Linked DNA regions of Homo sapiens. The protein of the gene in region 3 purifies or fractionates together with the protein of the main gene of each other region. This does not show direct contact. Each region holds a gene or a part of one and is shown on either strand. Other genes may lie near its edges.

Evidence for each region.
Region 1: the proteins of CD300E (region 3) and RMDN1 purify together in Homo sapiens (affinity purification with mass spectrometry; one large-scale study listed by BioGRID and IntAct). This does not show direct contact.
Region 2: the proteins of CD300E (region 3) and POMT2 purify together in Homo sapiens (affinity purification with mass spectrometry; one large-scale study listed by BioGRID and IntAct). This does not show direct contact.
Region 4: the proteins of CD300E (region 3) and SERPINA10 purify together in Homo sapiens (affinity purification with mass spectrometry; one large-scale study listed by BioGRID and IntAct). This does not show direct contact.

The regions. Positions count from the first base shown.
Region 1 is NC_000008.11:86,481,187-86,484,686, reverse strand, and holds part of RMDN1 (regulator of microtubule dynamics protein 1), read left to right. Parts: intron 1-3,500.
Region 2 is NC_000014.9:77,296,884-77,300,383, reverse strand, and holds part of POMT2 (protein O-mannosyl-transferase 2), read left to right. Parts: intron 1-822; coding exon 823-929; intron 930-1,612; coding exon 1,613-1,695; intron 1,696-3,500. UniProt on the Homo sapiens protein: Transfers mannosyl residues to the hydroxyl group of serine or threonine residues. Coexpression of both POMT1 and POMT2 is necessary for enzyme activity, expression of either POMT1 or POMT2 alone is insufficient.
Region 3 is NC_000017.11:74,608,594-74,612,833, forward strand, and holds the end of CD300E (CMRF35-like molecule 2 precursor), read right to left. Parts: intron 4,181-4,240; coding exon 4,060-4,180; 3' UTR 1,292-4,059; downstream 1-1,291. UniProt on the Homo sapiens protein: Probably acts as an activating receptor.
Region 4 is NC_000014.9:94,286,769-94,290,268, forward strand, and holds part of SERPINA10 (protein Z-dependent protease inhibitor precursor), read right to left. Parts: coding exon 3,108-3,500; intron 1,792-3,107; coding exon 1,518-1,791; intron 1-1,517. UniProt on the Homo sapiens protein: Inhibits activity of the coagulation protease factor Xa in the presence of PROZ, calcium and phospholipids. Also inhibits factor XIa in the absence of cofactors.

The sequences.
Region 1 (3,500 bases), on a different chromosome or scaffold from region 3:
GAGTGCAATGGTGCTATCTCAGCTCACTACAACCTCCGCCTCCCGGGTTCAAGCAATTTTCCTGCCTCAGCCTCCCGAGTAGCTGGGATTACAGGGGCACACCACCACATCTGGCTAATTTTTGTGTTTTTAGTAGAGGTGTGGTTTCACCATTTTGGCCAGGCTGGTCTCAAACTCCTGACATCAGGTGATCCACCTGCCTCGGCCTTTCAAAGTGCTGGGATTATAGGTGTGAGCCACTGTGCCCAGCCGACAGTTTGTTATTTCTTGCAATTCTTTGGGTTAACTGAGCGCAGTGGCACTTCTACATTGCTTGGTATAGCTGGGGTCATTTAGACAGCTGCATTCACCTGGGCCCTCAGCTGAGACTACAGTGTCCAAGATGGCCTCTTACCTATGAGAGTTTCTCCTCACTTGTTTTTTTATCACTTAGTTGTCTAGCTCAACCTTCATTATAGCATGGTAGTCGGCTTCCAAGAATGAGTGTTCCATGGGAAAAGATCCAATGTACAAAGTTCTAGCAAGCCTCTGCTTGCATCACACTTGGTAATATCCTGTTAATCTAAACAAGTCACAAGGGCAAGCCCAGTTTCTGTGGGAGGGGAGCATTGACACAAGTTCCTGAATATGGAAAGCGTGGTCCAGTGTAACAGTCTTTAACACAATTGACACACCACTCCTTGTAGTAATAATTCTATTTAAGATTGATATCTGTGTGTATATTGTATGTGTGTTTTATTAAAAATATTTTCCCCTAAAGTTAATTATTTATAGTAAGCTGTTAGGTGCAAAGAATTGCATAGGAGTCTGTATATTTCTTAACATGGATGAACTTCATTGTCTCAAAAAAAAAAAAAAAAACTACCACAAAAATACCAGCATATTTATTTCTCTTTTGAGATTATAGGAAGGAAAAATGATGGAAACATACATAGGGATAGTGCTGAATTTGCTATTTAAATAGTTTTTCATAATTTTATGGTTTAGTGTCAATTCCTAGTTTATATAACAACTAGTGAAAAAGAATGACTGGGAGTCCAGAGACCTAGCTTTTCTTGTTCAGGTATGGATAGTAATATATACATAATAACTGACATTTTATAATGTAACAATTTACCTGTTTCACAGTTTAAAATCCTTGAAATGAGATTACATGATGTAATTGCTGGAACCTTACATTGTAGTTGGCAGTGATACTTTCTTTCTTAGTGGCACATAAACTAATGGTGTGTCATTTTTGATATTTTAGATTCAGGGAAATACAGTAATTTTCTCAGTGGCATTAGATAAATTGCTTAATTTCTCTGTGCCTCAGGATGTAGAAATACATGACATAACTTCCAAAGGGAATAATGAAGAACTGTAGAAAATACACAAATGTATACTTTCCATTTTTTTAAAAAACAGTGAAGGTTATAGATTATAAAAAACAATGTTTTATATAAGCTTTCAAATGTACATGTTTATATTTTAAATGGCAATATTTAGTATTTACATATAAAAAAGATCATTTATACTGCTTACATTTCAAATTCCATTATATATCTAAAGTGGTAACATCTTTGGATTATTTTTGAAAGACCAGTGGCAGGAAGGATTGATTATAAAAGAGTTTGCTTGAAAGTACCCCTCTCAACCCTTCTCATAAGAAAATTAAACCCTGGCCTGGGCGGCTGCCTCCACGATGCCACTGCTCATCGAGGGGCAGCGAGTGCGGCTGCCACAGTCCGCCGGGGACCTCGTCCGAGCCCACCTGCCTCTGGAGGAAACAGCCAGATGTATCAGAGGTCAGTCTGTTCAACAACTGGGACCCCAGGGCCTTCTGTATGTTCAGCAAAGAGAGCTCGCAGTGACCTCCCCAAAGGATGGCTCCGTCTCCATTTTGGGTTCTGATAATGCCACTACTTGTCACATTGGGGTCCTGTTGCACACAGGTTATGGCGCCACCTGCTTGACACATTGTGATGGAACCGACACCAAAGCTGGGGTCCCCTTGATCATGAACTCCATAAAGTCTTTTTCCGACTGCGCTCAATGTGGAAGCCTGGAAGTATACCTCGTGGGAGGCTTCAGTGATGTGGGAGGCAGTTGTCACAAAAACTCACTCATTAACTTCTTAGTGAATTTGACAGGCAAGAAGATGACATTCACTTAGTGATACTATGATTATGTGTGACAGAATTAAATGACCAGGAAGAAAACGAATAACACTTTCTAATAATATATGGCATTGCTGTCAACTTAAGACTGCAAAGATTTACAGAGCCTCCTTTCTTTTTTTTGTTTGAGACAGAGTCTCCTCTGTTGCCCAGGCTGGGGTGCAGTGGTGTGATCTCGGCTTACTGCAGCCTCTGCTTCCAGGGTTCAAGTGATTCTCCTGCCTCAGCCTCCCAAGTAGCTGGGATTACAGGCGCCCACTGCCACACCTGGCTAATTTTTATATTTTTAGTAGAGACAGCGTTTCACCATGTTGGCCAGGCTGGTCTCAAACTCCTGACCTCAAGTGATCTGCCCACCTCAGCCTCCCAAAATGCTGAGATTACAGGCATAAGCCACCGTGCCTGGCCTACAGAGCCTCCTTTCAAGATCGAGGTCCAGAGGAGCAGCTGCGTGCCGCGTGAGCTTTAGCAGGAGGACCAGTGATTAGCATTTACGATGCAAAGACAGAACAACTTCGTATAGGACTGTACTCCTGGACACCATTTCCACATGTGGATTTCTGCTTGCAGCAAGATGACAAGCAAATACTAGAGAATCTTTCCACTTCGTGTCTGGCCGAGCCACCCCACTTTGTTGAACATATTAGATCTACCTTGATGTTTTTAAAAAAAAATACTGCTCCAACTAACACACTGTTTCCTGGAAATAAAGCCCTACTCTACAAAAAAAATGAAGATGGCTTGTGGGAAAAGATCTCTTCTCCAGGAAGCTAAAAAAATAGGAATTACCAAAGAAAGCAGAACCTTCTTGGCCTGACAGAGACCATTGGTGGGGCCAGCAAGAATCCAAATTTGGAACCTACATCCATTGGGTCTTAGGTCTTCTCCTTCCTTCCTCAGTGTTTTTCAAATGACTTTCAAAATAAAACCTTATTTTGGCAAAGGCAAAAAAAAAAAAAAAAAAAAAGGAAAATTAATTAAACCCTGATCCCCCCAGGCATCCATTGTGATGAATTAACTTCCTTCCTATGCATCTAGAATGGGACTACAGTATTTCTGTATCATTCTTAGGAAATAGAAAAAAATAGTTACTTACACAATTTTTTTGTAGGGCTTAATTTTTAGTGGAACTCCCAATTGAGAAAGGTTGCTTAGAGCATAAGTTGCATATAAACATGTTAAGATACTTATTTATTTTTTACCACAACCTTATGAGTTAAGTACATGACTTTTCCATAAAAGAGAAAAAACTCAGTTGTGGTAAGAATATAGATCTTGCAACCAGTTCAAGGTCATTAAGCTGTGACTTGAATCCTGGCAGTCTGGTTTCAGAGACCATGC
Region 2 (3,500 bases), on a different chromosome or scaffold from region 3:
TATGAGGTAGGGAGTTATTACCCTGATTTTCAAATGAGGAAATCAAAACCTACAGAGGTAATGACTTCCCCGAGGCCATCGGGGAGTGAGAGGTGTATCTAGGAGTCACAACCAGGTTAGGTTGGCCCCAGGCCATCACTCTGCTGTGGTGCTGCTCCATCACCTCCAAACCAGCTCCTAACAAGTTTATTCATTCATTCATTCATTTATTCAGAAAATGTGTAAAGATCATCCAGCCACTGTGTGTGAGGTGCTGGAATATACAGATGAATATAATATGGTCCCCACCCTCTGTGGTCAATGGAGAGAGAGAAATAAGGAAGCAGGCAGTTACAGTCAGCCAGGAGTGCTGGGAGAGCACAGAAAAGGGCACTCGGCCAGTCCCAGGCAATCCAGGAAGGCCTCTGGAAGGAAGCCGCGAAGTTAAGATAAGGAGCCATTAGCCATGTGATGGGTTGGGCTGGGACAGTAGAGGAAGCACTGGGAAAGTTCAAGGAGGTTAGTGTACCTGGAACATGGAGCGGACTGGTGAGCAACTGTGTTGCAGATGCAGGTGCCTTGTCCTTGGCACAGTAACATCCTGGGGTTTTGGGTGTAGAGCCTGGAGAGGTAGCAGAGGGCTGGCCCATGTTTATCTTGTGTAGTGCTTGGGTGGTGGGTGTTACAGAAAGGCTTAGGGTTTCCACATATTCTTCTCTCTCCTCTTGGCCATTTTTTATGATTATGACTGATATATTAAAAGCTATATATAATGCATGCATAGTGCCTAAGGAATAATGAGGTCTCACATGCCTAGCACCCCACGCTGGCCTCTGTTTGCAGGTGACTGTGGGAAAACACCTGACTGCTCGTGTCCTGTGCCTCATAGTGCTGCCCCTGGCTCTCTATACAGCCACCTTTGCTGTTCACTTCATGGTGCTGAGTAAAAGGTACAGACAGAGCCTTTGCAGCATCTTGCTTCTGGTTTTCCTTTTGCTCCTAAGCCTGTGGAGGGGTCGGATGATTTTCTGGGTCTGTGGTTAAAATGATAGGTGAGGGACCCCAGGGGCTTTTTCCTGTTTCTTTCCTGCTATGTTCTATCCTTTGGGTATATGCTAAGGGCTCAGAAAGGCCAGCACCCTAACCTGAAGGAAGAAGCTATTTTCGTTATAGCCAAATTGTCCCTTATCTCTAAACAGAGTCCCCTGTACTTAGCAAGGATAGGCCACAATAAGATGTGCAGTAGGAGTGAGTGTAACAATAACAGTAACTCCGGCGGCAACAGCTCCCACTTAATGAGTAGCTACTGAGAATCAGGAACTGTGTTCCGCATTTTGTACACATTATCTCATTTAATCAGAATCACTTGTGACTTCTCTTGGTTTCTTTAAATCTCTAGTTTATAAATGAGGAACTAAGGCTAAACAAGGTTATCTTGCCCAAGGTCGCACAGCTAGTAAGTGGCTGAGTTGGGATTTGGACCCCAGTTTCTCCAACTCCATCACCCACCTCTGTCCCATGATCTGATTCTACTTTCCTTAAACTATCTGAGCAGAGCTCTTCCCAGCGCTCCTGGGAAATCACACTTTCACTCCTTTAACTTGACTCTCTTCTGCTCTTCCTCTCCCCACAGTGGCCCTGGTGACGGTTTCTTCAGTTCTGCCTTCCAGGCCCGGCTTTCAGGGAACAACCTGCACAATGCTTCCATCCCTGAACGTGAGTGTCTCTGGGCCATTACAAAGGTAGAAGGCAGAGGGGTGTCCTGGGAGTTGAATTGGAAAAGACAAATATGATGGCTTTGGGTTATTTTAGCCTGTGATGGCACGGTGGGAGAAAGACCCAGATAGATCTGGTGAAAATACTCGAGAGTGAATCAGGACAGAGGAGAGGAAGACATCCTGAGCAGCAAGCTCTCTGACCCTAAAGAATGACTTCTCCTTGGTGGCTCTCCAAGCCAGCTCTGTGGGAAGGTCACTCAGAGAGAATATGGTGACAGCACCAGGCCCTTCAGAGCCAGTTTTTGGTTTCCCGCACCGCTTTCTGAGTGTTGCATTCGTTCATCTATGACAGATGGTAGTGGAGCGCGTGCTCACCCTCCAGAGATGGAGCCTGGTGTAGAGGAGCTCCACACGGTGTGGCTGGAAGCGTTAAGTACGTAAAGAGGGAGCACAGCTCTGGGGATTGACAGGCGTGAAGGAGCATGGCTGCTGGGCGGTTAAGGGCATCAGAGGTTCGTGATGTGGGTTGCCTTGGAGTCAGGCCCTGGAAGAATGTGTGGCTTTCAACAGAGGAGAGGGCATCTCAGGCAGGAGGGATGACATGATCAAAGCTGAGGACAGAGTAAAACTTGAGGCACAGGTATATGCAGAAAACTACTGGAAGATAAATGTGAAAAGTTAGGTTGGGCCCAGACTATGAGGGTTTGAGGTGTCTGGATGAGGTATTTGACTTCCTAAAACAGGCCGTGGAGACCTAGTGGAGGTCTTTGAGCAGCCAGGAGGCCAGGAAGGCTGTGCTATAGGGAGATGACATGGGTGGGAGAGTCGAGGCTGGCTGGGGAGGGGACAGGATTGTAGGCAAGAGAAACCCTCTGGGAAGCTATTGCAGGAACCTGAGCTGGGTATGGTGGGGCAGCCACAGGGTAAGGCAAATGGGCATATACAAGGGAGATCTGGACACAGCAAGAGAGGAAGAAAGATGTCACTAAGGACTTGAGTGCAGGTGATTGCTTCCTGGAGGCAGAGACTGCATCTTACTCATTTTAGTCTTTCCAGGACTTTGCACAGTGCCTAAAATACAGCGGACTCTCCCAGACTGGGAAGAATGAGAAATAGGGAAGCAGGAGAAGAAGTTGGGTTGGAAGGGCAGATACTGAATTCCACGCGAGAGGGGTTGATAGTGAGCTGCTTGGGGAAATTGTTGCCATGGGGCCAGTGGGATTTGGGGCTGATGCTTTCAAAGGAGGAATCAGACAAGTAAAACGGTAATTGATGCTGTGGCAGTAGCTGTGATTTGTAAGGAAACTGTAGAAAGAGGAAAAGAATAGAGCTGAGGTCAGATCACTGGGGAATGCAAGAGGAGGAGGAATTAGGAGAGGAGACTGCGGAGGAGCAGCCCTTGAGAGAGTGTGCGGTCGAGAAGTGGGAACAGAGAGCATTTCAAGAAATAAAGGTGGTCAGCCATGTGCAGGGCTGCCGAGGTTGGCCTGCCTGAGAACTCAGAAGAACACAGCTGTGGAGTTTAGCAAATTCCTGCTCATTATTTAAAGGCCTAGTTCAGCTGTCACCTCTTCGATCAAGTCGTCCTCTCTTTAATCCTTGGGAGAGAATTTGGCCTGTTCCGAGTTCCCACCATTCCCACCATGTCACACATTGTCACGCCTTTGTGGGGCACTTGCCCACTGTCCTATACTTGTCAGTGTGTGAAGCCATCTTCCTTGTAGACAGGGCTCTTCCAGGGCCACAGGCAGGCCTCCTCCACCTTTGGATCCAGTGTGTAATTCTTCTGGTCCACTGAATGAA
Region 3 (4,240 bases):
AAGAATAGCGGGACGTGAAGGGGTGAAGCCACCTGGTCCCCAGTCACAAGGCCAGAGAGCAGAGTTGATTCTGCCTCTGAATGGCAGCCTGGAGCTGGCCCACACAGCATCCCTGCAGGCCCATCTGTGCACTTTAGAAGGTCACTTCCCAAGCCTGCTGGGGGCACCATATGGTCCCAAGAATAAAAATGAGGCCCTGAAACACCTATCCTTTACTCAGAGGTCACAGTCCAGCAGCCATTACTTGCACAGACATGTCTTGTTTGGGTTCAGTGGGTGAATGGTTAAACAAATTATTTTACACCCATGCAATGAAATCCTGCTGAGCAATAGGAAGGAATCAGCTATTGGTTGTGGTAAGTGCAACCACTTGTATGGATCTCAAGGCTCAGTGAATTAAAAAGTCAATCTCAAAATATTACATACTGCATAATTTCATTTGTCCTCAAAAGGATGACACTGTAGAGATGGAGAACAGATTAGTGGTTTCCAGGGGACAGGAATGGGATAAGGGTGCAAATACAAGGGACAGCATGAGGGAGATCCTTGTGATGATGGATTGGTTCTGTATTTTGACGGGGGTGGTAGTTACCTGGATCTGTAAAATTGCATGGAACTCTACACAAACATATCCATAAACCAATGTATGTTAAAAACGGTGAAAACTGAACAAAGTCTGCAGTCTAGCTAACAGTATTGTAACAATGCTGGTTTCCTGGTTTGGGTCTTGTCCTACAGTTATATAATACATCACCATTGAAAGACACTAGATGAAGGATTCACAGGACTCTATGTTATATTTGCAATGTTAAGCCTATAATCATTTCAAAATAAAAGTTTCAAAAATTAAAACCTCCAGGGGCTCCCTATGGCCTCCAGAACACAATTCAAACTTCTTGGTCTGCCATGAAGCCCTTTCAGACTGAGGCTCCAGCCCCATATCTCACTCCTCCCTCACATGCACTCTGCACACATGGTAATGGTAACGTAGCTCCTGAAGGTCCTGGTATCCACCATGCTCTATGACTCTTCCCTACCATTGTCTGGGACAATCATCCCCCAGTCTTCTGCCCTATTTTTATAACTCAAGCCCTCAATTTTCCTTCTCCGCTTGGCCCTCATGGGAGTGCCTCCCTTCTGTGCCCCCACAGAGCACTGTGCAGAACCCTGACACAAATTCTAACACACCGCATCGCTATTGTTAGTCTACATCTTAGACTTCCCTTCTAAAGGAGTAGGGACTCTGCATAGTTTAAGTCCTTATCTGTAATGCCCAGAACAATGCACCATAGACACACAATAAAAGTTTATTGAATGAATGAGTAAATAAAGGGAAAAAAGAAAGGAAGAATAGGGGAAAAAAAGGGAGTAAGGGAGAAGGGAAAATTCAAAGCATGGAGAAGCCACTGTTTGTTTCTCCTGCACCTGCTGTCTGCCATCTGTCTACTCTTTCTTAACTCTTCTCTTCTGGCTTCTGCTGTCATTGCTCTGTTGATCTGCTCTTCTGAACTTCATTAGTGACCTTGTGAATGATAAGTTCAATAGCCTCCTCTCAATCCCGGTCCTCCTCCACCTCTCTAGCTCTGCTCTCCTCCTTGAAACATTCATGGCTCTTGACTTCTCATCTTCCACCTGTTTGATTCTGCTCCAGCACCTTGATCAATGTCTTCCTCCTACCCTTTGTCTTTAAATGCAGGTGCCCCGAGGGCTCTGTCCTTGGTTCTGAACTCTTCCCTCCATGTTTTCACTTCTTGCTGGGTTCCAGTTAATCTCTCTACACACATTCCTCTCCAGCCCTCAACACTCTGCTAACCCACATCTCTAGCTATCTGCTAGACCTCTCTGCCTGATGATTCCAAACACACAGAAAACTAAGCTCTGCATCATCCAAGCCTGCTCTTGACTTTCCTACTTCTGTCAATGATGCCCGATTCCTCTGGTTTTCCAGGCTTAAGACTCCGGACTCCCAGATTCTTCCTTTCAGACTTTGCTACATCTGCTAGGCAAGTCCTCCTAAAGCACATCTGCAATCCCATCTTGTTCTGCTCAAATCCATCCCACCATAGCTAATCAAAGTTTAAGTAAGAGTTGAGTCCTAAGCCTCCTGAACCTGCCACCACCTGAGTTCTTCTAGATTAGTTCCATCTGGCCTGCCACAGGAAAATTTCACTCCATTGGAATCTTAGACACATCCTACCATGAGCATCTGTATGTGAACAGTACAGTCCATTTGCTGATAGGTCTTCTATAAGTGACTATTGTTATGAAGATTATTTCCCGCCTCTCTGCTTTCACTTATGCTGTTTCTCTGTCCTCTCTCTCTCCCTGTTGCTCCATCCCTGCTCCGCTGAAATCCTATACCTCCTTCAACATCAACATGAATGTCACCTTCTTTCCCTGACCTGGCCAGCTTGGCATGATATTCTCCTCACCAACCCCCTGACATCAGGAAGCATCTCTTGTGGCTCTAGAGTTCTTCCTATGCTGTAATGACTTGGGAGCTTATCCTTCTCATAAAATGAATCATAAGCTCCTTTCTTGCTCATCATCATATTTCCCGGGTTAATATAATTAATATGGGCCTTGTTAGATTGAATTTCTCTTTCAGCATGAGTCCTGGGCCAGCCCCATCTTTCCCCTAGTCACCATGCATGATGGAGCTGGGAGCCCCACCAGAGCTCAAGTTCAGAGCACGGCAGCTCTGCCTAAGCACTCGGCACTCAGAGGGTCACTCCATGTGCTCTGGACACTGGCATCACTAGCTCAGGATGAGCTCAGGCCTGGGGGCAGAGGGGGAGCACTGGTCCAGATGTAGGTAGCAAGTGGAGATGGTGATGCTTGCTTGTGGCAGACTGTGGGAGTCCTCCCCACAAACTTTAGGGAAACAGAGTAATTGACAAACATTCAGAAAACCAACTGAGCTCATTCCCGAGCCAGGGGTCACCAGTAGTGGTGATAGCACTGTGCACTTCAAGTGTGGACAAGTATCCTTCACCTCTGTGCCCTCCATCCTGTCTTTGAAAAACGATATCTGCTCTGCCTGTGGAAAAGGTTAATTGCTAACAGGTGGTCTCAGCCAGACTTCTAAAGTGGACAGAACTGACTCTGTTGACCTTGTGCATTGGACACCTCCAGGTGGGGGAATTCCAGGAGTGATATCAGGGGCACCCACCAGCTCCTTCTCCCTTTACTGTTTCAACTCGCCCCAGAACTTTAACCTGGAGCAGCTCATCCACGGCCCACCCAGGCAGAGATGTTCTGAGCCCAGCCACACACTGCCTGGTTACAGGGAGAGAAGGGGCCTTAAAGCCAGGGAGACCCAAGGGGCGTCAGAAGACGAGAGGAGCCCTGAGCATGTGGGACACTGGGCAACTGCATGAGCAAGCTCTGCCGGGACCAAGCTCCCTTGGGGTTGTCCCAGAGAAGAGATGGAGCTCTGTGAGCCTAAAGGCTGGGGCTGTGAGGGGTGTGTCCTCAGGGAGACTCCTGTCTGCAGGAAGGAGGTAGTTATTGCCCTGGGGGAAACTGGCCTGAGAAGCATTTGTGCCAAGAAGAATGAAGGGCCAGGCTCCTCCAGAAAATTTTTTCCCTCCCTTCCTCCGTCCTTTTCTCTCTCTCTCTCTCTCTCTCGCTCTCTCTCTCTCTCTCTCTCTGTCTCTCTCTCTCTCTCTCTCTCTCTCTCTCTGAGACAGGGCTCTCTATGTTGCCCAGGCTGGCCTGGAACTCTTACGTTCAGCCGATCCTCCTGCCTCAGCCTCCTGAGCTGGGATTATAGGCACTCGCTATGGTGCCCGGCCAACTTCCAGGGAATTCTTGCCCTTGGGAAGTGGGCATGAGGGCAGGGAGGCAGGGGACTGGGGAGGAGAAAGGAGGACCCCCAAGCTGCACATTGAGGACTCCAGAGGAGTGTCCTCTAAGAGCCAGGACCCTCCTTTGAGGCACAGGAACAATAAATCCCTCCAGAGTCCACAGGTCTCTCGCATCCAGTCTGAAAGGTTGACTCCCTGCACGGGGCACTCCTGGGGATGGGGCTCTGCAGGGCTTCGGGTCAGCCTGGCTCTATCTTCCAGGAGGAGCCCACTGAGGCCTGTTCACCCAGAAGACAGCACCCAGCATGCTCAGGAGCAGGGGCAGCTTCAGAAGGACCACGAGCAGGAAGTGAGGGCTGCTGAGCCGGAACCTGTGGTGGACACGGTGAAAATGAGTCACTTCCCCGGGAGAACCCCCAGGACCCTTCTCT
Region 4 (3,500 bases), on a different chromosome or scaffold from region 3:
AAATAAAATTTTTTTATTTATTTAAAAATAATTGAGGACATGACGTGTCTTGAAGATTAATTTAAAAAGTTATTCATTCAGCAAACATTACTTGAGGGCTTATGATGTTTGGGGTTCATTGTTAGGTGCTAAAGATATGAAGAAAAATGAAAGAAGAATAATGAAGATAAAACTAACCCTGGGGACCTTTAGCTGCACTTGTCTGCCAAAATCTGAGTCACAGGATTCAGAAGCCATAGCCATGGAATTCGTATTGCAGCCATTTTCCTTGTACTCCAATAGGTGGATTAATTTATTGGGCAGACATTTCAGTGCCCACTCTGTGCTTTCTTTTCCTCTCCTCTATATTTACAGACCCCAACCCTGTCATGTGTCTAGATTCTAGTTCTGTGTTGATGACCGAATTTATATCTCCGGCCTGGACCTCACCCTAGACTCCAGATCCACCTGTCGTCTTGACATCTCAACTTGGATGTCTAATAGATATTTCTGATCCAAGTGTTTAAGACTGAACTTCTGCACTTACCCCAGACCTGTTCCTCCCCCTTTCAGTAAATGGCAAATCCGTCTTTCCAGTTGCTAAGGCCAAAAACTTTGTGATCACCTTTGACACCTCTCTCACCCACATCCAATCGATTAGCAGATCCTGCACTTCCTAATAGATCCAGAATCCAGCCACTTCTCACCACTTCCACTACCACCACCGCAGTCCAGGTAGCAGCATCTCTACCTGGATTGCTAGTAACTTTCTAACCACTCTCCCTTGCTTCCATCCTTACCCCCTAGTGTCTTTTCTCAACACAGGAGCTTATGTGATCCTTTAAAAACAGAAGTCAAAATCAGGTTGCTCCTCTACTCAGAACCATCCAGTGGCTTCCTGCCTCTCTCAGGAAAGCCCAAGTCTTTTCTGGGGACTGGGCCCCTGTTTCCTCTCTGATTTTATCTCCAACTGCTGAAGCCACACTTGTCTCCTTGATGTTCTTCAAACCCACCAGGTACACTCCCATCCCAGAACTTGTACACTTCTGCCTGTAACATAACACTTCTCTCCCCGAATATATCCACATGGTTTATCCTTCATCTTCAGATGTTTGCTTACTGTTACCTTCTTGGAGAGGCCTTGTCTAACCTCCATCTGCATCCTGATGATGCTTCTTGTCCCCTTCCCTGCATTATTACCTATTTTTAATTTACTCTTTGTCTTCCTTCAATAGAATGTAAGCTGCATGAGGGCAGACTAATTTTGCCTGTTTTGTTTGCTGATGGATCCCTGGCATCATATATTTATCACAGTCGCAGAACGTAAAATACTGATGGACTCAATGAATGAATCAGCCAGGCACCCTGTGACAGATGCTGGGGATAGAGTGGAAAAAAAGACAAATGCTGCCCTGCCTTCAGGAAACTTATAGCTCACTGGAGGAGACATTAAATCACGGTGCATTCAATGAAATTGTGCTGAGCGTTTGCCAGTACAGAAAGGTAGAGTTTGTATAGGGTGTGGGCAAGAGTTGTACCTGGTTTTCATGTTTCTGAGCCATGTCTCCACCAAGTCTGTGGTCAGGTAGTCTTCAAGGGCGAGGTGGTCACCCATTTTCTCCATGAGGACCACCAGCATGGTGGCATTTCCTTGGTAGGGCAGTTTGAGGACATGACAACGAAAATTCTTGTCAAAGGTGGAGGCAAACTTGCCTGCACCGTACATCATGGGCACCTTAATGGTCTTGTACTTGTCCAGGTGGAAAGTGTCGACTTCGGTGAAGACAGGGTCAAATGGGGTCAACCATTTCCCTGAACAAGTAAGAGAAGAACTCATTGCAGAAATTCCCTCTTTGAAAAGCATTGTTCTTGCTCAAATAATAGAGAGGGAGCCTTCTATCTCACTTCTCTCACTTCTCGTCTTCTCGTTCCAACTAGGAAAGGCGTTCCCTAATTGGGTTGGCTTTTCCACAGCTCAGGCAGGCAAAATAAATTTCCCCAAAATTTTCCCCGTCCTCTAGCCCAGCTAGCAAAATGCAGCTCCACTCGCAGGCCCTATTGGGAATCGCACACGAAAGCAGGGAAATGTTTCCTAACAATCCCTGGCTCCTCTCATTGTCCTGGACCTGAACGGAATTCACAGTCGTTCCCTCATAGTTGGCTCCAGCTTAGAGAAAAGCCTTTGCCTGGCACCTCTGACTGCCACTTTGTCTCATTCACACCAGGCACAAGCACATGCAGAGTCCAAGGTGGCAGGAGTGACACTTCTCACCCACCCACTGTTTAGTGTGGTTCTGAGAGAAGGCCCCACAATGCAGAGGCTACTAGCAGGCAGGTACATTACTCTCTACATAAACGTCTGCCCTGGGGGTGTGGCCTGGCTGGTTGTAAAGTGGCTTCCCCTGCCGGGGCTTTGTAAGTCTGGTGCCAGCTCTGCGAAAGTGGCATCCAACCCACGTCCAGTGCCCCATTAGGGAGGCAGGGCTGGACAGAACCTAGGATCAGGGGGTCAGGAGGCCCTTGTTTGGGTTTTGCCTCTGCCACTTACTGTGTGACCTTGATCAAGCTAACGTCTCTGAGCTGGTTTCATCTTTAGAAAGGAGACAACTCCTGCTCTACCTGCTGATTGGCAGTTTGGAAGAACAAGTAAACAATAGATACTCAGTGTCTGCTATGTGCCAAGCCCATCTGGGCACTTTACATTCATTGTCTCATTTAGCCTCTAACACTGTAGTAGGTGGAGTGTCCCTATTTTCTATAATAGGAATCTAAGGGCAGAGAGTTGGTCAAAAAGTAAAAATGAAGGAGCAATGATGCAATCCTAAATCCCCCAGATAATCCCCCAGCCCCCTGTTTTTTGGAAAGACCCTATGCTTCTAAGTGTCAGAGGGGAGCTATGTAGAGTGCTCTGAAAATAATAAGGACTACAAGCACATAGGATACCAGGGAAGGGCCTCAAATGACAGCGTCTGGCACTGTTCAATATGTGTATCAATCTGTTTTTGAAACGTGAAAACACATTCATAGAAAATCACGTAGCGTTAATCATATGCTGGCCTAACGAAAGGAAAGGGAGAGACAATCGTAGGGCCCTGTGGCCTTGGGAGAGCAGAACATTATCAAAGTACCTTTGAACAAGATGTAATCCACAAGAATTAATTTGGTTTCAGGATTAATCTCATCAAACAGTTTGGGAATTTTCCCCCGAGTCTCTTTGTTAATGTAATGATTCATGAGCCTTTTGGCCTGTGAGGCATTGCGAAAATTCATAGGCACGCACTCTGTATCAAAATACCTCTTGGATAAATTGAAGAAAGTCTCTTTGACATCAAAATCCTTGTGGATGAAGGCAAAACTCCCCTGTGTGAGGCCCAGTTCCAGGTTGCGGGAGAGGGTCTCTCTGAGTCCCTTAAAGAGGGAAGGCAGGAGCCCGGGCTTGGTGGGCTTCAGGGCCTGCAAGTGGAGCCCTCTCTTGATCTGGGTTTCAGTCGGCCCTGTGGCCCCCAGCATCAAGCCTGTCA